7 linked regions of the Homo sapiens genome follow. The protein of the gene in region 1 interacts with the protein of each later gene in a pairwise test. Each region holds a gene or a part of one and is shown in the gene's direction. Other genes may lie near its edges.

What was found.
Region 2: the proteins of IQUB (region 1) and CEP76 interact in binary tests that used the Homo sapiens proteins (3 or more experiments, as listed by UniProt).
Region 3: the proteins of IQUB (region 1) and KRT75 interact in binary tests that used the Homo sapiens proteins (3 or more experiments, as listed by UniProt).
Region 4: the proteins of IQUB (region 1) and ZNF526 interact in binary tests that used the Homo sapiens proteins (3 or more experiments, as listed by UniProt).
Region 5: the proteins of IQUB (region 1) and GPRASP3 interact in binary tests that used the Homo sapiens proteins (3 or more experiments, as listed by UniProt).
Region 6: the proteins of IQUB (region 1) and ANAPC11 interact in binary tests that used the Homo sapiens proteins (3 or more experiments, as listed by UniProt).
Region 7: the proteins of IQUB (region 1) and CHAT interact in binary tests that used the Homo sapiens proteins (3 or more experiments, as listed by UniProt).

The regions. Positions count from the first base shown.
Region 1 is NC_000007.14:123,458,096-123,461,595, reverse strand, and holds part of IQUB (IQ motif and ubiquitin-like domain-containing protein), read left to right. Parts: coding exon 1-239; intron 240-3,500. UniProt on the Homo sapiens protein: Adapter protein that anchors the radial spoke 1 (RS1) complex to the A microtubule of outer doublet microtubules in axonemes. The triple radial spokes (RS1, RS2 and RS3) are required to modulate beating of the sperm flagellum.
Region 2 is NC_000018.10:12,685,724-12,689,223, reverse strand, and holds part of CEP76 (centrosomal protein of 76 kDa), read left to right. Parts: intron 1-2,773; coding exon 2,774-2,962; intron 2,963-3,500. UniProt on the Homo sapiens protein: Centrosomal protein involved in regulation of centriole duplication. Required to limit centriole duplication to once per cell cycle by preventing centriole reduplication.
Region 3 is NC_000012.12:52,424,372-52,427,871, reverse strand, and holds part of KRT75 (keratin, type II cytoskeletal 75), read left to right. Parts: intron 1-1,020; coding exon 1,021-1,055; intron 1,056-3,116; coding exon 3,117-3,355; 3' UTR 3,356-3,500.
Region 4 is NC_000019.10:42,226,007-42,228,701, forward strand, and holds the end of ZNF526 (zinc finger protein 526), read left to right. Parts: coding exon 1-410; 3' UTR 411-2,195; downstream 2,196-2,695. UniProt on the Homo sapiens protein: May be involved in transcriptional regulation.
Region 5 is NC_000023.11:102,727,243-102,730,742, forward strand, and holds part of GPRASP3 (G protein-coupled receptor associated sorting protein 3), read left to right. Parts: intron 1-3,500. UniProt on the Homo sapiens protein: Survival and differentiation promoting protein that plays a role in the regulation of neurosynaptogenesis. Induces phosphatase PP2A activity which results in APP dephosphorylation and inhibits BACE1-mediated processing of APP.
Region 6 is NC_000017.11:81,894,723-81,897,738, forward strand, and holds part of ANAPC11 (anaphase-promoting complex subunit 11), read left to right. Parts: intron 1-3,016. UniProt on the Homo sapiens protein: Together with the cullin protein ANAPC2, constitutes the catalytic component of the anaphase promoting complex/cyclosome (APC/C), a cell cycle-regulated E3 ubiquitin ligase that controls progression through mitosis and the G1 phase of the cell cycle.
Region 7 is NC_000010.11:49,620,537-49,624,036, forward strand, and holds part of CHAT (choline O-acetyltransferase), read left to right. Parts: coding exon 1-77; intron 78-1,560; coding exon 1,561-1,614; intron 1,615-3,500. UniProt on the Homo sapiens protein: Catalyzes the reversible synthesis of acetylcholine (ACh) from acetyl CoA and choline at cholinergic synapses.

The DNA.
Region 1 (3,500 bases):
ACCCATTGAAATTTTATAAGAAGATTTACTTTTGCCACAGTTGCCAGCTTTATTTGCCTTCTACAGAATTTTCTGTATCATCCACCTCACGCCGCATATACCGGTGTCGTAACTGCATTAACCTTCAGAATGAGGCTCAAAAACGAGAATCATTTTTGAAGTACAAATGTTTACTTCAACAGCTCTACTATACAGAAGCTGATTATGAAGATGATTCTAAAATTGCTTTCTTGATGCAGGTATGGTCAATAAGGGGTGCCAATTATAGCTGAAGCTTGTCAAGGAGGCTATCTTGCAATCTTATGTATGTTTGTGTGTGTGTGTGTGATTGTTTAATGACTCTCTATTCCACTAGACTGTAAGCTCTGTGAGGGCAGGAGTATGCTTTTTTTCCCTCCTGCTCACCATTATACCTCTATAACCTAATACAGTACCAAGTTTTTATTTAAGGCCCTCAATATTTGTTGAATGAATGAATGACTTTTACAGAAACTGATGTTACATATACACATACTAGTGTTTACGAATAACAGTAATAATTAGTGTAAACCAAATGTGACCATAATGGTAAATAACACCAAAAGTGAAAGCTAAGGCTTATAGAAAGTAAAAAAAAAAAAAAACCTTAGGGAAAGGCTTTGATACTTGTCTATGTAAAGTGTTGATATGATACCACACAACTGGAAAGTTTCTGGCCAGAGTTCTTTTGGATGAATCATTGCATTGGATCATTGACCCTACGTAATCTGCTTCTCGTAAGAACTTCTAGCTCTGTGAGAGGGTGGAGCCTGTGAGATCAGGAATTCTGACCTGAATTCCTAACTTAACCACTACTTCGGTCTCTTTGGTTATTCCATGTCTTCTATTGGGTTTAGGCCAGAGGATAGTCTGTGTCTCTACAAAATAAAAACAAATTCCTGACACTGTTTGGACTTAGGTAAGCAAGTGAGAAAACAGAAGGACTTACTTGTTGTTGATATGGCTACCCAACATTAGCCACTTATTAATAAAAGTATATTATAGAGCACAATTGACCTCATTAATGATATTTGTGTTCACAGACTGTCAAATAAGGGCAAATTTTCTGTAAATTAGTTACTAATTAAAATGAACTAAATTGTATTTAATACCAAATAGGAAAGTAGGCACTACTATGAATAGAAAACTTTATAGAGATTAAAAAAAAGATACCAAATGTGATGTGCTTTGTTAAAAAATTCTTCTAAATCCATAGCTTTCAAACTTTTAAATCTCAATCTATAGTAAAAATGTATTTTTATGACAACCTGATATAGGCATGCATGATAATTCTCAATACTCAGTACCTATATGGCTTTACACACTTTATTGAGTTAATCAGCACAAAAATCCTATCAAAATAGGCATTATTTCCATTCTGCAGGTGAGGAAAGGGAAGCACTGAGTGGTTAACTAACTTGTCCAAGTTTACGCTACTAAGTACCAGCACCAGGATTGAAAACTAGGCAGTCTGATTCCCAGCATCCGTACATGTAAACACATGCTGTTCTGCCTCAGAAATAAAAGTTTCCAAAATAGTGTTTATCTTTACCCCTATGGATGTACTCTGATATTTTCTATTCAATCTCAGTCTACTTATTCTGATTTCCATTTGGAAAACTTTGGTATCACCCAAGAGGTAGCAACCCACAGTTTGAAAAGCACAAATTAAAATGATTACATATTTTGTCCAATAGAATGAATATTTTGTTAATAAATTTGATGTTTATTTCAGCTTAAATTCTTATTTGCTACTTTTATTCAGGAATTATTGACATGACAGATGTATATTTCCTTGTAGAGAATCTTAGATGTACTAGGGCTTTAATGTAAGTCACCAAGAAGTGCTGGCTCAATATTCCATGTTGTATTAGTCAGATTTCTCCTGAGAAACAGAACCAATAGAAAATGTTATACATATATGTTATATATATATACATATAAGGAGATTTGTTACAAGGAATTTGCTCACATAATTGTGGAGGCTGGTAAGTCTAAAACCTAAACAGCTGATGGCCCAGTTCAAGTCTGATGACCAGCAGGCTGCTATAGAGCCAGGAGGAGCCAGTGTCTCAATTCAATGGCCATTAGGCAGAAACAGTCTTCCTTACTTGGGGACAGGGTGAACTTTTTGTTCTATTCAGGCCTTCAACTGATTGGATAAAGCCCACTCACATTATGGAAGACACTCTGCTTTACTCAGTCTACTGACTTACTTAAATGTTAATCTCATCCAAAACTACCCTCACATAAACACCAGAATACCGTTTGACCAAATATCTGGGTATCCGGTGGCATCATCAAGTTGATGTAAAATCAACCATTACACATATTGAATGAAAAAATTCTAGGGGAGCATTGTAACCTTTCAGATAAGGATAATCTCCATTAGATGTGATTTAATTTCAGTACCGTATCTATGTAGGGTTTTGGTCTATTACTTTTCCAATGTCTAGGATTAGCAGACAAATATGAGTGTCCAGTAGCTTCCCCCCCCTTGTAATTGGTGTAGTTTTGATTAATATTTATTTCAGTAATAGTATTTGAGGCATAATTTGAATGTTTGAACATTCTCATAAATAGTAAATCTTGTGGACAACAGCAAAGATTAGCATATGTTAAATGTGAACATGATGCCATGTAAAATGAAAAGGTGAAAGTTAATATATATAAAAAGTAAACATTCTGCTTAGACAAGAGATTTGAGTGTTGTACTAGTCACCTCGTTTATCTGTAATGCATACAAATACTGCCTAATATAATAGGCAATAGTATTGCTCTGTTACTGCAAAAATTTCAAGTACAATGACTACTTGAAAGGTAGAAAGCTCTTAGAGACTGTCAACCACACTTATGTGCACATTTGACATTTACATGCAAATAAACACGTTATTCTGTATGATACAATTTCAAAATTATTAGTACAGTTGAGCAACTAAATTAAAAACAAAAATGTAAACAAGATGCATTTTGAATGTAAGTAAAATATATAAAACATTGAATTTTAAAGGTCTATAAATTTATTTTTCATAGCAGCTGTGTACAGAGTATTGTCTTTTTTAGCATTAAGTAAAAGCTAGAATGCATTAGTTGAGCTTAATATATTGAATTACCAATTTATGAAATACTGTTGTAGCTGATGATGACAGGTTCTTTTTGTTTTTTACTTTGGCAGATTGTTTAGGTTTTGTGTACTCATTTTACAGAAAATATTTCTGCTCTCACACTTTTTCACAGAAGCTTTTTTAAAAAATATTCTTTTTACATGCTTATACTTTGTTGAGTTTGTCCGTCTCTGGCAATTCTAAATTTATAATGCAGACCCCATGATAAAAAGTCATTCCAAGAGTTTTAGCTGATAAGATTTACGTTTTTTAAAAAGTTTTAAACAGCTATTTCATTACCCCTCTTTTTGATTAAAACAACCAAGTCTTTTAATTAACACTAAGTGAATTACTTATCTTTATTAAATCTCAACTTCC
Region 2 (3,500 bases), on another chromosome or scaffold:
TTATAAAAACAATAGTTATAAATCAAAACGTTAATATACATATCCAGGCCAAAAAAATTTCTAATGTATCCAGCACTGAAAGTAAAGTAAAGAACTTTTTTTTGTTGTTGTTGTGAGACAGAGTCTCAGTCACCCAGGGTTGAGTGCAGTGGTGCGATCTTGGCTCACTGCAACCTCCACCTCCCAGATTCAAGTGATTCTCCTGCCTCAGCCTCCCAAGTAGCTGGGACTACAGGCACGTGCCACCATGCCTGGCTAATTTTTTGTGTTTTTAGTAGAGATGGGGTTTCACTGTGTTAGCCAGGATGGTCTCGATCTCCTGACCTCATGACCCGCCCGCCTCGGCCTCCCAAAGTGCTGGGATCATAGGCGTGAGCCACCACACCTGGCCAAGAACTTTTTGCAATGATGGAAATGTTCTGTATCTGTGCTAACCAGTATGGTAGCCACCAGCCATGTACTGAGCATTCAAAATGTGGCTATTATGACTAAAAATAATTGAATTTTAAATTTTAATTAAAATTTAAATAGCTCATAATGGTTAGTGATTTTCTCACTGGACAGTGCCCATTCAGAGGTTGAAATATTAACTTTTCAAAACAGTTAAGTAGCTTGTGGGGATATATTTAGATAATATTAGAATATTGCTGTAATAAAATGATATATCTTACATTCTAAGATGCTACTATTGATGATTGACTTAGGCAAATGCTTCCACTTCTTATGTGCTCATCTTTTCTTGCCTGTTAGTGGATTTGTAAGAATAGGAGTAACAGTCCTGCACCTCAATACTAACCAAAGATCTGTAGATTTGCCGTGGCCATTATACTTAAAAATTCATTATTCTTTTTACCCTTTGTTAGCTGGTTTTGCTATAGTATAGTAGTAATTCATTGAATGATGCTTTTTGAACTTTTTAGTGCAAGAAACTTTAAAATAAGTTACAGAAATTGAACTTTAAGGCCACTAGGTTTTGTTTTTTTTTTTTTTTTTTTGAGATGGAGTCTCGCTCTCGCCCAGGCTGGAGTGCAGTGGCACGATCTCGGCTCACTGCAAGCTCCGCCTCCCAGATTCATGCCATTCTCCTGCCTCAGCCTCCTAAGTTGCTGGGACCACATGCCTGGCTAATTTTTTTTGTATTTTTAGTGGAGATGGGGTTTCACCATGTTAGCCAGGATGGAATTGATCTCCTGACCTCGTGATCCACCCACCTTGGCCTCCCAAAGTGCTGGGATTACAGGCGTGAGCCACCGTGCCCAGCCTAAGGCCATTAGGTTTTAAGAAAATGTTGTAAATCACTTGAGGATTGAGGATATTCTTTTAATATTTAGTTTGTGATTTCAGGACTTAGTATTCTTATACCACACTAGATTATTAGTAATGCTAAGTTCATGTAAAAGAAAACCATAGTTCTCTACATCCCCCCAAAATTAGAATAATAATCCTCTGTTTTAAAAATCGGTGCCCTCTAGGCCAGGCACAGTGGCTCACACCTGTAATACCAGCACTTTGGGAGGTCGAGGTGGGCGGATCACTTGAGGTCAGGAGTTTGAGACCAAGCCTGGTCAACATCGTGAAACCCCATCTCTACAAAAATACAAAAATTAGCCAGGTGTGGTGGCACATACCTGTAATCCCAGCTACTCAGGAGGCCGAGGCACAAGAATCGCTTGAACCCATGGGCGGAGGTTGCAGCGAGCCGAAATCACACTACTGCACTCCAGCCTGGACAACAGCGAGACTCTGTCTCAAAAAAAAAAAAAAAAAAATTGATGCCTTCTATAGTTGAGAACTATAGGTATGAGTGGAATCTATAGCCAAGTTGCTCTGCAACATAAAAATTAATGATCTTTCTCATTATAATCAAATGTAAATAAGTGAGTTTTTTTTTCCTTGCTAAAGTATGGGACTATATTGGAAAAAGATGTTCTGGTTGTGGAGAAAGACATCAGTGGTTCTGATAATTCAAACAGATGGTGTTTCTTTTGGCTGGGTTAGATCTCATGTCCTGAGGAACCCTATCAGGGAGGGTAGGTCATCTCCAAATCTTGAATAGTAAGTGGCCCTTTCACAGTGCCGTATCAGTAACCATGAAGGTAAAGAGATTGTGGACTTTGGTAATACTCACTGTAAAATCACAGTGGTAGACAGTCATCAGAGACCTATATATGCATACAAGTTATTCAGCACCAACACCAGGAGATATCCTGTATTTAGGATGTAAAACTTTTTCTAGAGTGTTTTTTGAAATTTTGCTTTCAATTGACTTGGTTAACAAATTATTGTTTCCTGTGGATCTCTAAATTTGAGGCCCTAATGGAAACAAACTAGAATCAAGCTACAATCATTTCTGTTATATCAGCCAATCAGAAGAGTTATTTGTTCTGTCTGGCTATATGTTGTTAAATTCTATATGGTAATGTGAAAAAATACTTCAGCTTAGAGCACCTCTCCCTCCCCTACATACCTACCCACACATTTCTCAGAGGAGTTCTTATTGCCACAGCCTTTGGAGTAAAACAGCTCAGAGCTTGAACCTGGCTCTGTTGCATAATAGCTGTAGCTCCTCAGTTTTCATCTATAAAATGAAAATAACGGAGATGAGGATTAAGGGAAATTATATACACAGCACTTTGCAGCCAAATACTGGATACAAGGTAAGCACTCGATCAATGGTATGCTGAATTATTTTATCCTACATTAATGTATTTGAAAAAAACATAATTGGGGATGATTAATATGTCATTACAGATGTTTTTCCCCTTTTCCCTAGGATGAAAATGGGATAAATAGACCAGTCTGTTCCTATGTTAAACCACTTCGAGCTGGACGGCTTCTTGATACTCCAAGGCAAGCAGCAAGATTTGTTAATGTCCTTGGTTATGAACGAGCCCCTGTTATTGGAGGAGGAGGTAAACAGGAGCAGTGGTGCACTCTGCTGGCCTTTCTCTGTAGAAACAAGGTATTATACACACATAATAGAATTAAGTAGCAGTATATCATAGTTACTCTGAATTTGTAATCCATTTGTAAAAGAATGCCTTAGAAAAATGCACATATAGTCAACCCTCTGTACCCACAGGTTCTGTATCTGTAGATTCAACCAACTGCAGATCAAAAATACTTACAAAAGTAAAAAATTACAATAATAAAAAATAGTACAAATTAAAAAATGGTGTGTAACAACGTTTATGTAGCATTTACATTGTATTGAGATTTTTAAACAATTTAGAGGTGATTTAAAGTATATAGGAGGATGTGCTTAGGTTATATATAAAATACTATACCATTTTGGCTGGCCGCAGTGGCTCATGCCTGTATCCCAGCATTTTGGGAGGCTGAGGCAGGTGGATCACCTGAGGTCAGGAGTTCAAGACCAGTCTGGGCAACATGGTGAAACCCTATCTCTACTAAAATACAAAAAATTATCTGGGCATGGTGTCGTGTGCCTGTAATCCCAGCTACTCAGGAGGCTGAGGCAGGAGAATCACTTGGACCCT
Region 3 (3,500 bases), on another chromosome or scaffold:
TCTCTGGCCCTCAATTTCTTCAATGATAAAATGAAAAGGTCAGATTACATGATCCGCAAAGCTTCATGGGAGCTTTGTGCTCTGCCAGTTAGGAGCTGTGTAGCCAAGAGCAGATACTTAACCTCTCCACCTCTCAGTGTTCTCATCCAATAAAATGTGAATAACAATAGTTCTAAACTCTCACATTATTAAAAGGGTTAAAATAAGGGAATACACACAAAGCTCTTAGAACAATGCATGGTACACAGCGTGTTCGATAAATGTTAGCTATCATTCAGTTTCATGGCCAAAGACATAGGCTTTGGTGTCAGATGAATCTGTCTTCAAGTCCAGCTTTGCGACTATGGGCAAGTTAGTTAACTTGTCTGAGCTTCCATTTCTCCCTCTATAAAAGTGAGCAAATAATACCTACCTCATGGGGTTGTTGAGAGAACTAAGTGGTGTGATATAAGTAACAGGTAATCAACAGCTGTTACCTCTTGTTAAGTTTCTCAGTATGTGTTTATGAATGAATGCCAGTTCTGTCCTGAAGATGCTAAAGCAAAGTTACTTGGTTGCTAAGATAATAATAAACTGATATTACTATTGTTATTTTTATGACTCAGACGCCTCTCCACACCTATATACAATAAGCTCAGCCCTGGCTCAGTGCATGACAATGGTCCCTTGTTGAGAGACAAATCTTATTATAGGACAGGCCCTTCTTTCCAGTTGATGCCAGTATATGATTACTTTTAATTTCCTTAAGGCATCTAACTAGTTTAAACCAAAAATTGTATTTCTGAGATTATAGATTTTGCTCCTGTGAACCTCAAACTCCACCTTATTTTATTCATTAGATTATTAATATTATCTTTAATACTACTAGTTCTCAAATAATTTCAACCTGCATTACTTCTGCAATAAAAATAATAAAGTATGTTTAAATGCTTTGTCAACAATTACAAAAGTGTCATTGCAAAGGCCCTTAAGCTGCTGGCCACATTGGTAACCTTCCTTCTCCCTGCTCTTCCCAATCAGGTTGAGTGGAGAGGGAGTTTCTCCAGTTAACATTTGTGAGTATGACATACTTCTTGGGCCATTTGGAGTGTGTGTGGTAGAGGGGATGGGGATGTGGTGGGCTTGCCAGAGGGTGAAGATATGACGGGTTAGACGGGATCTCACAGACAGCGTTCATTTGGAGAAGGTTTGAGGTTTTGGGTCCCTTAAAAAGCAAGCCATATTAGGAGTCTTTAATGTCACAGTTCTTTCCTCTTTGAGAGTGAGGGTGTCACAGAAGGGGTGATGAGAGGTTTGATGTCATTGTTCTGAGTGGGTTTAAAAGATCCTGGCCACATCTCCTACCTCCCAGAATTCCCTGCCTTTTTGTTGGGGCTGCAAGCCTAGCACAGAGGTGAGCACTTGATGTAGACGGGATTTATGAAAATTCCTGGTCTGGCTTGGACCTTTGAAGGGAGCCTTCATGCTGTGGACAAGAGCATTGCCAACTAGGCAGCTTCTCTCCTAAACAGTTTGAGAAGAAGCTCCACTGCTTGGCTCAACTCTGCCGAGTATAACTGCAGAAGGATGCCAAGGGTTTTCAAGGCAGTAAGGGCAGCATAAAATATGGCAGTTGGCTACAGTAGCTCTAAAACAGGAGAGGTATTAACAAGCTGGCATGGCCCTGTGCTGGTGAGAGAAGAAGTGGTCATTCGCAGAGCTCAGTGCTGGCATCACAAGGGCAACAGAAATGACTCTTACAACTCACCCTCTACAAGTGAGTTTGAGTTTGGTTTTCTTGATGGGCATTCATAAGGGCAATTCATTATATTAGCCAATGATTCTAGAAGGCAGAGCCCTCTGAACCACCCAGGTGTCCTTCCTCCCTGATGTCTTTGTCTAGTGGTGCCAGAGACCCTCAAAGCTAATTTTGGGGACAGGCCTTCAAGCATAACCTTGAAGCTCCTTTTCTCTTGAAAACACCTAATTGTCTGTATTAGTTTTCCAGGGCTGTTGCAAAAAGTACCACCAGTCAGGTGGTTTAAAGCAACAGAAATGTCTTGTCTCACAGTTCCGGAGGCTGAAATTAAGGGTTAGCAGGGCCCTGGTCCCTCTGAAACTTGGAGCCTGGACCAGCCTCCTGCTCTGTATATCATGCAGGGTGGCACTATCCCCTCTCCAAACCAGATAGTGTTCTGGAACACGGAGGCAGCATGGGCAGCCCAGCCCCCCTCCAGCCTCCTCCTAGCTCTGGCGGTGGCCATCCATCCTCGGTGTTCCTTGGCTTGTGGCTGCATCCCTCCACTCTCTGTTTCTGTGATTGTATGACCGTGTCCCTGTGTGTCTGTGGCTTCAGATGAATGTCTTCCTTCTTTCTGTATGGACACCAGTCATGTTAGATCAGGGCCCACCCTACAGACTTTATCTTAACTTGGTTATACCTGCAACGATCCCATTTCCAAATAAGGTTGCATTCACGGATACTGGTGTTAACACTTCACCATAGGTTTTTGAAGGACACAATTCATCCTATAACGGAGTCTATTTTTTTAAAATTTGATTTTCCTTCGGCAGGACCCAAAGTAGGGTGCTAGAATGTGTAAGGGGATGAGTTATAAATTAGGAGAAGAATAGGTTGGGAGGAGAACGGGGGCAGAGTTCACTGGCCAACAGGTTAATCTGTCACTTGATCCATCAAGAATATTCCAGCCTCCACCCTGGGATTCTGAGTGTGGGGCTGGGAGACGCTGAGGGAAGAGGAGTGTGCCCCTCCCCCCATAAGCATCCAGAAGGAAGAGAAACTCTGGAGTCAGGCTCAGACAGGGAGACAGACCCAGACGGCACAGCAGGAGGATCAAAGGGAAAGCAGGTGGACTGGAGCTGCTTCCAGGAGGAGAGGGCTCCAGTAGGTTCTGGAAGGGGAGGAGGAAGCCATTCCAGCCTAAGAGGCTGCCTGGAGCTGCAGCTCAGGAACACAGGCAGTGATCTCACTAAGCAGGGGACATTGGAAGGAGGCAAACTGCTGGCTGACGAGACCACCCCCTCCCCACCCAAGGACTCCAGGGCACAGGCCCTCACACTCCCAGCTGTCTTCTCGCTTGCACTTGATCTGACCACACCTCCTCTCTTCCCGGCAGCTGTGGTCACCTCTACTCTTTCCAGTGGCTATGGAAGCGGCAGCAGCATTGGAGGTGGAAACCTGGGCCTCGGTGGGGGCAGCGGCTACTCCTTCACCACCAGTGGTGGGCATAGCCTGGGTGCAGGCCTGGGAGGTTCTGGATTCAGTGCCACCAGCAACCGGGGCTTAGGGGGCAGTGGTTCTAGCGTCAAGTTTGTCTCCACCACATCCTCCAGCCAGAAGAGCTACACGCACTAAGAGAGCCCCATGGCTCCCTCTACCCTGCCTTGAGGCCTGTTTGCAGTCACACCTGGACACCAGGGTCCTCCTCCTTCCTCTCTCCTTGTAAGGTGCACCTGTGCTGCTGGGAGCCTGGAGTACTGGCTATACCCATTCCCAGGCC
Region 4 (2,695 bases), on another chromosome or scaffold:
AGCGCTTCACACAGAGCTCCAACCTGCAGCAGCACCGGCGGTTGCACTTGCGGCCAGTCGCCTTTGCCCGCGCCCCCCGCCTCCCCATCACTGGTCTCTACAACAAGAGTCCCTACTACTGCGGGACTTGTGGCCGCTGGTTCCGCGCCATGGCGGGCTTGCGACTGCATCAGCGGGTCCATGCCCGAGCTCGGACTTTGACGCTACAGCCTCCCAGATCACCATCTCCTGCCCCACCCCCACCTCCAGAGCCTCAACAGACTATCATGTGCACAGAGCTGGGGGAGACCATCGCCATCATTGAGACATCCCAGCCACTGGCGCTTGAGGACACCCTGCAGCTGTGCCAGGCTGCACTGGGGGCCAGTGAAGCAGGCGGGCTCTTGCAGTTGGACACGGCCTTCGTGTGACGCAGCTGAAAAGCAACAACAAAAGGGTTTGGTTGCAACAGCCAGTGTGGGTACCTCTGGGGAGAGAGGACCTCCTCTGACAAACTGGTCTGGTACCCACCATGTGCCAGGATCCACCCTGGCCTCTTTTTACCCACTGACTCCCCAGAACAACCCTTCCAGGCTTCTCTTGTCATCTTTCTCTGCCTGAGGGGAAACTGAAGCTCTGAAATGCGATGTGATCTGTACCAGGTCACCCAGCTATGCTGCAAAGTGGGTTGGCCAAGGCCCTTTGCACTGCATCACCCTGGTGCCCAGCAACATCAGGTAACCTTCACTGAGCACCAAGCTTATGCCAGGTCTGTGCTGGCCACTCTCATATACCTCTTCAGATCCTCTGCTTGTACCCCCAGCCCTTGCCTTCCCTGGATTTTGGGCACCCAGGACTTTGCTCTGCCTGGTGGAGGGTACTTGATTTCTCTGGGCTTCCTTCATCTCAATTCTGACAGTGTGGAAGGAAATCTGTAGGTACCCAGGTCCTCAGCTCCAGACTGGGTGATGCTGGAGACCCAGGAGCAAGTCAGCACAGGCTCTGCCCACAGGAGGCATGCACAATCTGGTAGGAGAAACGCACAAGTACAGATAGCTTGCTCTCTGAGTGTGTCTCATTGATTCATTCAGCCTGTGTGTCCTAAAGCCTCCCTTCTCCCATACTGGGTGATGCTGGGGGCAGAGATGAGTCAGGCCTAAGGCTTCTCTGGGCTGTGATGGGGATGTGCAGGGACAGTGGGATCCCAGGAAACAGACCTCCATGGTGGGAGATCAGGAGTTAAGGACTTCCTAGAGAAGGTAGTCCCTGAAGGAAAAGTAGGAATCTGGCAGTGAAAGAGGAAAAGAACATTCCAGGCAGACAGCACTGCAAGAGGGTGAGCTCTTGGTGTATTTGGAGACCATCCAGTTATTCATCTGACTGCCTACCTGAGGCAAGCACCACACTTACCACTGTATGTGTACTATGATCCCAACAGGCTTGTGACATAGATTTCATATTATCCCTGTTGTATAGATTTTTAAAACTGGTGGCTGGGCGTGGTGGCTCACGCCTGTAATCCCAGCACTTTGGGAGGCCGAGGCGGGCAGATCACGAGGTCAGGAGATCGAGACCATCCTGGCTAACACGGTGAAACCCCGTCTCTACTAAAAATACAAAAAATTAGCCAGGAGTGGTGGCGGGCGCCTGTGGTGGCCAGCTACTCAGGAGGCTGAGGCAGGAGAATGGCGTGAACCCGGGAGGCGGAGCTTGCAGTGAGCCGAGATCGCGCCACTGCACTCCAGCCTGGGCGACAGAGTGAGACTCCCTCTCAAAAGAAAATAAAAATAAAAATAAACTGGCCAGGTGCGGTGGCTCACGCTTGCAATCCCAGTGCTTTGGGAGACTGAGGCAGGAGGATCACTTAAGGCCAGGAGTTCGAGACCAGCCTGGGCAACAGCAAGACCTCATCTCTACAAAACTTAAAAGTTAGCCAGGCCTGGTGGCACATGCCTGTAATCCGAGTGCTTTGGGAGGCTGAGGCAGGAGGATCACTCGAGCTCAAGAATTCAAGACCTGGGCAAGAGAGAGAGACTTTGTCTCTATTAAAAATAAAAATGATTGGCCGAGCATGGTGGTGCACACCAGTATTCCCAGCTACTCTGGAGGCTGAGGCGGAGGCAGGATTGCTTGATATGAGGGAGATTGAGGCTGCAGTGAGCTGTGTTCACACCACTGCACTCCAGTCTGGGCAACAGTGCAAGACCCTGTCACTTAAAAAAAAAAAAAAGGAAAAAAAAACTAAGGACAGAGATTTGCCCAAGGTTTCACAGCTAGGCAGAGATGTGAGATTTGAGTACGGGAGGCCCCTGCGGCCCACATTTGTAACCCATACTATTCTGAGTGATTAAGACCTGAAACTTGTGCAGGGGTAGGGGATCAGAGGAAGATTCATTCTAACTAGAGGAAAAGTAAACCAGTGTCAGAGCTATTGGGATTTGAAGGGGCTTCGAAACATCAAAGGTCTTGAGAGCAGGAAGATTCCCACCTTTTTCAGAGGTTACCTAGGATAATAGTCTTTCTCTCCATTGATTGATTGATTGATTGAGATGGAGTCTTGCTCTGTTGCCCAGGCTGGAGCACAGTGGTGCAGTCTCAGCTCACTGCAACCTCCACCTTCCAGGCTCAAGCGATTCTCCTGCCTCAGTCTCCCTAATAGCTGGGATTACAGGCCCCCACCACTGCACCCAGCTAATTTTTGTATTTTAGTAGAGAC
Region 5 (3,500 bases), on another chromosome or scaffold:
ATTCACAATATCAACTTCCGTCCTAAGGCTGATAGCTTGATGGCTACAACAATTCCAGGAGGTAAGCAACTTCCTGAGGAAGAAGAAAAGACAATCTTTTCTGATGACTTTGTCTTATGAATGAGGACACTTTCCTCAGAAGTCCATCTGTAACCTTCCCCTAATGTCACATTGAGTGGAATTTGATCAATGCCTCTTCCTAAACAAGAGAGTACCAAGGGGATAGATTATCCGTAGACCAAAGAGACTCACTCTTGGAAATGGAATTAGCCTCTCTGTGACATGTGACTAAAAGGAGGAGAAAGTCAGTAACCTGCAGTGGCAACTATGCAAAAATGGCATCCTTTTAGTAAAGGGTTATGGTAAGCAACACAGAATATACAAAGCACTGAGGCTACAGCACAAAGAGCACAGTGACACTGACTTAGCAATTATGACCTTTAAAAACCATGTAGTTCTCATCTATTCTTTCTTGCTTTCTCCAGCCCACTCCATAATAGGAATAGATCAGAAATTTTAAAAGAACTAGAAAGATCTGATATACACATGTTGTGCAGGATATCAAATAGTTTTCTCAGTATACACAATAATCCTGTAAAGTAGTTAATGCCAGCTCCCTTTTAAGGATGAAGAAACTGGGTTATAAAGACGTTAAGTACCTTTGCTAAAGTTACACAAATAGTGACAAAGTCTGTATTCAGACTTTGGACTGTCTGGCTCTGAAATCTGGGTACTCCCAACTCTTCTGTACAAACTCCCTTTAGAATGTACTCCCAGGGCTCAGAAACTAGTTACTCTAGTCTAAGCAAGCACTTAACAATCATTAGGCAGTTAATGTAAACTATAGATTCTAATAGTATCATGCACTGCCTCTTGATGGTGGTGGTGGTGGTAGTGACATAGACAACTTTTCTCTCCTAGCATTAAGTTACAGTTCCTCAGACTTCATTACCAATAATATATATATTTTTCAATTTTTAAAGATTTTTTGTAGAAACAAGGTATAACTGCATTGCCCAGGCCAGTCTTGAATTCCTGCACTCAAGTGACCCTCCCACCTTGGCCTCCCAAAGTGCTGGAATCACAGGCATGAGCCATTGTGCATGGCCATTACCAGGAATTTTGATTCAGGAGGTCAAAAGTCTAATTTGCATTGCACATTACAAATTTTTGGGCTGAGATGTCAGGTTCAGGGAGCCCCATAAATTTCCTGTACCTGGGAGTGAAAAGAGCTAATATTTATGGAGCAGCTGGGTTTTCCAGGGCAACCTAATTCCCAGATGTGATGTTCAGCAGAAAAGAAGCAGACAAAAGCAATGTGCACTGCTTTTTTTTTTTTTTTTTTTTTTTTTTAAATAGAGAGGGGGTCTTGCTATGTTGCCTAGGCTGCTCTTGAGCTCCTGGACTTAAGCGATCCTCCCACCTTGGACTCCCAAAGTGCTGAGATTAAAGGTGTGAGCCACCACACCCAGCCCATTTTAAATTTTTTATTTTTTATTTTTCACTGCTCTTTAGCTTCCCTGTTAAAACCCATAGCCAGACTTCCAGTTTCAGTTCCAACATGTAAGAACTTGTAAGTCATTGCTCCTGTACTTACAACCAGAAAAAAATCTGAACAAACAGAATCAACAACATTTCTTAGATTCTTCAAAGAACTGAGGCATAGGACAGTTGACTACCCCAAATTCTGAAGGCAAATCCAGAGAGTCACAGCCTATTTCTTCTTTCATAGAACAGAAACTGCTAGAGACATAAATAGGTAAGAGCACTTAAATGTAATTTTGATGAATTGCTGGAGACTGAGTGTGGAATAATATGAGAGTGAGAAACCCCTGAGGATCTGCAGTCAGGGAGGTCCCCACACTTTTGTGGGCATTACTTCCAAGAAACCCACCATATTCTTGCAGTGAAGGGCCTCATGGCCCCTGCAGTGGGAAGGGAACTGTACTTTTGTGAAATACACCCAGAGCCTTCTTCATTTTTTAAAAAAAAAGCCTATTCTGTGGTGGAAAAGACTTTATCAGAGCCTTATCTCAGCTGAGGGAAAGGCGTTTCTCCTATTTCAGCCCCCTTTAGGTTTCTAGTCTCATGTAAGGGAGAGAAAGGCGCTAAAATAAAACTCTTATGAAAATCAAAGCCCAGGGACACAGGCCCACAAAAGACTGAAATTTAATCATAATATTATAGAACACTTCCTCTCCTCTGCACTTCACCACCATGCTAACAAGGCTTTATTATAATAATAGTGGATAACAGTGAATAACAGTTAAAAGAGCTGCAAAATGTAAACTCTCCCTGAGAAGAATATTTAGGGAAATGCTAGAAATCAAAAATACTGTAACAGAGCCCAGGCACAGTGGCTCACGCCTGTAATCCCAACACTTTGGGAGGCTGAGGTGGGTAGATCACCTGAGGTCAGGAGTTCAAGATCAGCCTGGCCAACATGGAGAAACCCCATCTCTACTAAAAGTACAAAAATTAGCTGGGCGTGGTGGCGGGTGCCTGTAATCCCAGCTACTCAGGAGGCTGAGGCAGGAGAATCGCTTGAACCCGGGAGGTGGAGGTTGCAGTGAGCCGAAATTGTGCCACTGCACTCCAGCAAATGAAGAATGCCTTTGATGGGATTATCAGTAGACTGGACACAGTTGAGGAAAGACTCAGCAAGCTTGAGTAGCAGTCCCCAATCTTTTTTGGCACCAGGGGCAGATTTCGTGGAAGACAATTTTTCCATAGACTGGGGGGCGAATGGCATGGTTTCAGGACAATTGAAGTGCATTACATGTATTATGTACTTTATTTCTATTATTATTACATTGTAATAGATAATGAAATAATTATACAATTCACCATAATGTAGAATCACTGGGAGCCCGGAGATTGTTTTTGTAAAGCTAGATGGTCCCATCTTGGGGTGATGGGAGGCAGTGACAGATCATCAGGCATTAGATTCTCATAAGGAGCATGCAACCTAGATCCTTCACATGTGCAGTTCACAATACGGTTTGTGCTCTTATGAGAATCTAATGCCACTGCTGATCTTCCAGAAGGCGGAGCTCAGGCGGCAATGAAAGTGATGGGGAGTGGCTGTATATACAGATGAAGATTTACTGGCTAGCCCGCCACTCACCTCCTGCTGTGTGACCCAGTTCCTAACAGGCCATGGACGGGTCCAGGTCCGTGGCCTAGGGGCTGGGGACTCCTGAGCTTGAAGATAGGTCAATAGTGTAAACTAAAAAGTATGTAAGACATGTCTCAATTGATTTAGAAGTTTATTTTGCCAAGGTGAAGACATTCCCAGAAGAAAAGAGCATGGAATCACAGAAACAGTCTGTGGTCTGTGCCTTTATCCAAAGATAATTTTGAGGGCTTCAATATTTAAATGGAAACAGCAGGCTAGAGGGGAAGAGGGAGGGTACAGTAATCCACATGATGCAAGGGAAAAGGAGCAGAAACAGGAATAGTCAATTCTGTATTCCTCTGGCTCACAGTAAATCAGCACT
Region 6 (3,016 bases), on another chromosome or scaffold:
TTTTTTTTTTTTGAGACCGAGTTTCGATCTTGTTTCCCAGGCTGGAGTGCAATGGCGCGATCTCGGCTTGCCGCAACCTCTGCCTCCCGGGTTCAAACGGTTCTCCTGCCTCAGCCTTCCAAGCAGCTGGGATTACAGGCATGTGCCACCATGCTGGGCTAATTTTTTTATTTTTAGTAGAGACGGGGTTTTGCCTTGTTGGCTAGGCTGGCCTTGAACTCCTGACCTCAGGTGACCTGCCCGCTTCAGCCTTCCAAAGTGCTGGGATTACAGGTGTGAGCCACTTTGCCTGGCCCACATTTTTATTTTCTTTTCTTTCTTTCTTTTCTTTTTTTTTTTTTTTTTTTTTGAGATGGAGTTTCACTCTTGTTGCCCAGGCTGGAGTGCAATGGCGCGATCTCGGCTCACTGCAACCTCCGCCTCCTGGGCTCAAGCGATTCTCCTGCCTCAGCCTTCCAAGTACCTGGGATCACAGGCATGTGCCACTACACCCGGCTAATTTTGTATTTTTTAGTAGAGACAGGCTTTCTCCATGTTAGGCTGGTCTCGAACTGTCAACCTCAGGTGATCCACCCGCCTCAGCCTCCCAAAGGGATGGGATTACAGGCGCGAACCACCGTGCCCCCCCCAACATTTTCATTTTCATCTCATGAAGAAAAGTTGATAGAAAAAAAGCCAGGTGGTTGGTACCCATGTTTATATAAAGATCCTGTCACAGACTCCATAGGATGAAACTCAGCTGTGAAATACGTGGGATTAAAAAGAGATTAGAGTCTGGGCGGGCAGATCACAAGGTCAAGAGATGGAGGCCGGCATGGCGGCCCACGCCTGTTATTCCAGCACTGTGGGAGGCCGAGGCGGGCGGATCACAAGGTCAAGAGATGGAGGCCGGCACGGTGGCTCACACCTGTCATCCTAGCACTGTGGGAGGCCAAGGTAGGCAGATCACAGGGTCAAGAGATCAAGGCAGGGTGTGGTGGCCCACACTTGTCATCCCAGCACTGTGGGAGGCTGAAGTGGATGGATCTCAAGGTCAGGAGATTGAGACCATCCTGGCCAACATAGTGAAACGCCATCTCTACTAAAAATACAAAAATTAGCTGGGTGTGTGGCGTGTGCCTGTAATCCCAGCTACTGGGGAGGCTGAGGCAGGAGAATCTCTTGAGCCTGGGAGACGGGGGTTGCAGTGAGCCAAGAGCAAGACTCCATCTCAAAAAACAAACAAAAAAAAGATTAGTTTAAACTTTTTATTTGAAAATTCTCAAAATTGAATGGCATAGGCCAGGCGCAGTGGCTCACACCTGTAATCCCACCACTTTGGGAGGCCAAGGCAGGCGGATTGCTTCAGGCCAGGTGTTCGAGACCAGCCTGGCCAACATGGCAAAACCCCGACTCTACTAAAAATCCAAAAAAATTAGCCGGGCATGGTGGCAGGTGCCTGTAATCCCAGCACTTTGGGAGGCCGAGGTGGATGGATCACCTGAGGTCAGGAGTTTGAGACCAGCCTGGCCAACATGGTAAAATCCCGTCTCTACTAAAAATACAAAAAAGTAGCCGGGCATGGTGGTGCATGCCTGTAATCCCAGCTACTCAGGAGGCTGAGGCAAAAGAATCGCTTGAACCTGGGAGGCAGATGTTGTGGTGAGCCAAGATCGCACCATTGCACTCCAGCCTGGGCAACAAGAGTGAAACTCCATCTCAAAAAAAAAGAAAAAAAGTGGAAATGTTTGATTATGTTTAGGTTGAAAGCAGAGTTTTGCATCAGCGAAATGGTTTTTCATGAGACCGAAATGAGCGTAAAGCAGAAGCAAGGGTCAAGGTTTTGCCCAGGGAGGACAAGAAGAACTCCCCAGAGGACAGTGGGGAATGGAGAGGACAGTGGGGAATGGGGAGGACCGAGAAGCTACTCACTACCCCAAGTAACCAGGCGTATTTTTGTAGGGCCAGGTGCATGCCCATATTGATTGACAGGGTCTCACTGTGTTGCCCAAGCTGGACGTGAACTCCTGGGCTCCAGCCATCCTACTGTCTCAGCCTCCCAAGTAGCATACCACCACACTCATCTGCCTCCTTTGCTTTTTTTTTTTTTTTTTTTTTTTTTTTTTTTTGAGATAGAGTCTTGCCCTGTTGCTCAGACTGGAGTGCAATGGCACCATCTCAGCTCACCGCAACCCCCACCCTTCTGAGTTCAAAGGATTCTCCGGCCTCAGCCTCCCAAGTAGCTGGGATTACAGGCATGCACCACCACAGCCAGCTAATTTGTTGTATTTTTATTTTTATTTATTTATTTATTTTCGAGACAGAGTCTCACTCTGTCACCAGGGCTGGAGTGCAGTGGCACGATCTTGGCTCACTGCAACTTCCGCCTCCCTAGTTCAAGTGATTCTCCTGCCTCAGCTTTCCGAATAGCTGGGACTACAGGCGCTCGCCGCCATGCCCAGCTAATTTTTGTAGTTTTAACAGAAATGGGGTTTCACCATGTTGGCCAGGATGGTCTCGATCTCTTGACCTCGTGATCCGCCCACCTCAGCCTCCCAAAGTGCTGGGATTACAGGCATGAGCCACTGCGCCCAGCCCTTGTTGTATTTTTAGCAGAGACAGGGTTTCACCATGTTGGCCGGGCTGGTCTTAAAACTCCTGACCTCAGGTGATCCGTCCACCTCGGCCTCCCAAAGTACCAGGATTACAGGTGTGAGCCACTGCACCCGCCCCTGTCTTTGCTTCTTAAGGTGAAATTGAGATGACTGAATCTTAGTACAATTTTTTTTTTTTGAGACAGGGTCTTGCTGTCACCCAGGCGGCAGTGCAGTGTGGCAAAATCATAGCTCACTGTAGCCTTCAATTCCTCAGCTCAAGTGATCCTCCCACCTCCACCTCTCAAGTAGCTGGGACCACAGGCATGCTCCACAATGCCTGGCTAATTTTTTATTTTTTTATTTTTTGTAGAGACAGGGTTTTGCTATGTTGCCAAGGCTAGTCTTGAACTCCTGGGCTCAAGGGATCTGCCTGCCTTGGC
Region 7 (3,500 bases), on another chromosome or scaffold:
CTGGCCCTGCCTGTCAACTCCAGCCCTGCCGTGATCTTTGCTCGGCAGCACTTCCCTGGCACCGATGACCAGCTGAGGTGAGGCCTTGGTGCTCCTAGCTCATAACCTGGGGACCCACCCAAGGCAGGGGCCCTTACCCCAGTGCCAGCAAAGAAAGGCCAAAGCTGGAGCCTCGGCTGAGCTTCCTGGGGTCAAATGCCCCGAGACAGTGGACGTCCAGGCCATCAGGTGGGGAGCAAGGTTAGGTGTGGCTGCACTCGAGTGACAATCACACAATTAGCCTTAGTCTATATTTATCTTGCAGTGGAATGGACACTCATGGAGGTCATGGGTCCAAATATCCCCACAGCCTCCACCTGGCTGAGGCCCTGGGAGGAGGCGTGTGTCCCTGGACCACGCCAGTACTTGTCCCTGGGAAACACTGCCCCAGGCTGTCTGAGAGGGCCTCTGCTTCCTTCCAGAGCCCCCAGCTCTAAACAGAGGCCCCAGAAGGCTGGAAACAATTCCTCCCTGCCAGCAGCCAGAGCCTGTGCCATCTGCTGTAATTTCAGAGCTCACTGAGCCGTTGGAAGGGCCTCTGGCCGCTAATGACAATGGAGGATGGGTGCAGGGAGAAAGGGTTTCCCTTCTGGAGTCACTCAGAGTCTGGTCTTAAGACCTGAGTGGGGCAAATGGTGGGGACGGTTTAGAGGGAGGGCAGACCAAAGTGGCCCGAGGACAAGAGGCAGGGCCCACCTCTCCTCTGGGCAGGGCTTAGCCATGCTAGGAAGACCTCCCCACCCCACCCTACCAGCTGGCCAGCCTTCCCTCCCACTGTAGCTGGGGTCTCCCCAGGGAAGAAGGAAGGTGTGGACAGATGAATGACTTCTGAAAACAGTTCTCACAATTGCATCTGAGGGGGTATTTTCCTCCTGGTGCAATTAAGCCAGGCCCAGAATCCTGGTATGACAGTTCCCGCTGCTCGTTTCTCCAGTGCCTTTCCCCAAGCACTCGATTTCCTTTTCATTAGTACCGGGGGGTGGGAGGAAAGGGACCAAATTACTGGCTTTTCCCAGGAGAAAATTTTCCACAAGGCCAGGGGTCCTGCCCTGTCCAGACCCAGGGCTGGCTTTTCCAAGGAAGAACTCCACCCTTCACCCTCCACCCCTTCTGGCCTGCTCTGTGGCCTCTCCTAGCTTCCGTCTCCCTCTCTGCTCCCTCTCCTCTTCAAGATGATTCCAGTTTCCTCTCCCTTCCCCAAGAGCTACTCGACCCCCAGTTCTCACCAAAGGACCATTTTGAATCCAAGGCTTGTGGTGGGCTCTCGGCATGGGGCTGGGGGGCAAGAACCACATCTGATTAGTGCAGGAACCACATCTGATTAGTGCACACGGGGGCGGCATACAATGGGCGATCACAGAGTTTGGCAGTGGGGATGAGGGAGGGAGGAGGGAGGGAGAAGGGAGGGAAGAGGAAGGAGATGGAAGGAAGAGGGAAGGAGGGAGGGGAGGCAGAAGGGAGGGAGGGAGGGAGGAAGCCAGGCCCTGGGAGGAAGGGCTCAGGCCTCCCTTCTCCCTGCAGGTTTGCAGCCAGCCTCATCTCTGGTGTACTCAGCTACAAGGCCCTGCTGGACAGGTAGGACTGGGAGGGTGGTGCCCTGTTCCAGCACAGTCTGCCTATGCGTCTATCTCCCTTGCAGGGACCTTGTCTTTTTCCAGCTCTGTATTCCCATTCCTGGCTCCTGGCACAGAGCAGATGTCCCTGCCCCAACCCACTCCCCCACCATCAGGATGACCTTTAGCCTGGCTGGCCTGTCTGTTAACTGTTCCTTTTCCTGTGGCAAGCACCATCCTTCCTTGATCTTTTAAAAATGTCTCCTCCCTCCACACATACGTGCACAGGTGGAGTGAATTCACTTGAAGCTGGAGAACACATAGGAAGGCGGGGAAGGAAGAGTTGTTAGAGTAAGGTGATGGGAGTTCTGCTTTGCCACTTGGAGGAATGGTGTCTCCAGCGGGAGACTGTATCCTCAATCCCACCAAGCTCAGTGGACATGAGGCTGTTCTGACAGATGGAGAGGGCTGCTCAAGCACCGCAGGCTCTCTTTGATTTTAGGAAGAAAGTCCCTCTCCTGGCCAAGCTTAGGAGAGCAGGAGGGTGTCTGAGAGCAGCAGGGAGAGTAAGCGGGTCTGGAGGACCCAAGTCTCTCAAGGTAGAGACTATAAGGGCATTAGAAGCTGGAAGGAGAGAGAGAGGCCCAAAGAAGCATCCCTTGCACAGATGAGGAAGCTGCAGCTCAGAGAGGTTAAGTAACTCATCCATGGTTACACAGCCAGGTGGTGGCAGAGCAAGGAGGGGGCAAGGGGCAAACTTCACTCTTTGTTCAACTTGACTCAATTCAGTCTTTACCCAGCCTTGGGACAGAGGCTCAGACCCACAGCCCCTTCCAGGGTAGGGCTGTTCCCTCTGGAGAGGGGCAGGCAGAGCTCCCAGACTGTCAGGGTGGAGCAGTTCAGGCTGTCCAGGGCATTCTGCACCACACGCTCCTGTGTGCTCTGCTCACTCCTCTCTAAATGCCATGGGTCACTAGGCCCTGGGCTGTTGTCTCCTCATGGTGTGTCTTTGGTCTCTCCCTTCTTCGTGGACAGCATTCTATTTCCTCCCAGAACTCGCCCCTCCAGCTCACCGTCCTGTCTGTTTTCAAACACCATTGTCTTGCTGGGCCTGGGGACTTGGTGCCCATTCATCACTGACTGCCCCCACGAGACCACTTTCCTTCTGATCCCAGACTTTCACATGTGTGTGCACACTCACACAGACACGAATACCCATGCATATCCACGTGGAGGTTCCCATGTCCAATGATTGAAAAGGACTTAAGACTGGAACATTTTCCTGAGTGCCTGTTTTGAACCTTTAATTAATTAATTAATTAATTTACTTATTCACTTTGCAATGTAGTTATGCTGGGAAGAGGAAGAGAAATAAGGCCTCATCCTCCCCTCAAAATGTCCTTAGACTATTGGGCAAGACAGTCACTTAAACAGACACAAAATACAGCTGTGTCCCTTCCCCTGAGTCCCACACTCGCTCATCCAAGCCTCAGCCATCCCCACCGGGGTGTCTCTCAGTCATTACAAATGAGCCAGGAGAGCTTCGCCTCTCCCTCCCCATTCCCCAACTCCTCCCATACCTTGTCGAGCCATGTCCGTAAGTGCACCAGCACATGCCCTGTTGGTGAGTCTGGGAACCTAGAAGTCACCTGTGCTTGTTCTGCTTTCTCCCTTGCACCTTCATGTAACCCATGGTGCTCAGATGTGGTCATTCTCCCTCCCCACTGTGTCCCCAAGCTCCCTCCTCCTTCCCTGCTGCCCTCACAAGACATCACGTTCCTTCTCTGCCACAACCTCCTTCCTTGTTCTTCCTGTGACACCTTTCAGTCCATTCTCCCCATATAAGCAGGGTCAGTAAAACAACAAAATGGAAACCCAGTCATGCCCCTGCGTGCTAAAGCCTCCCAA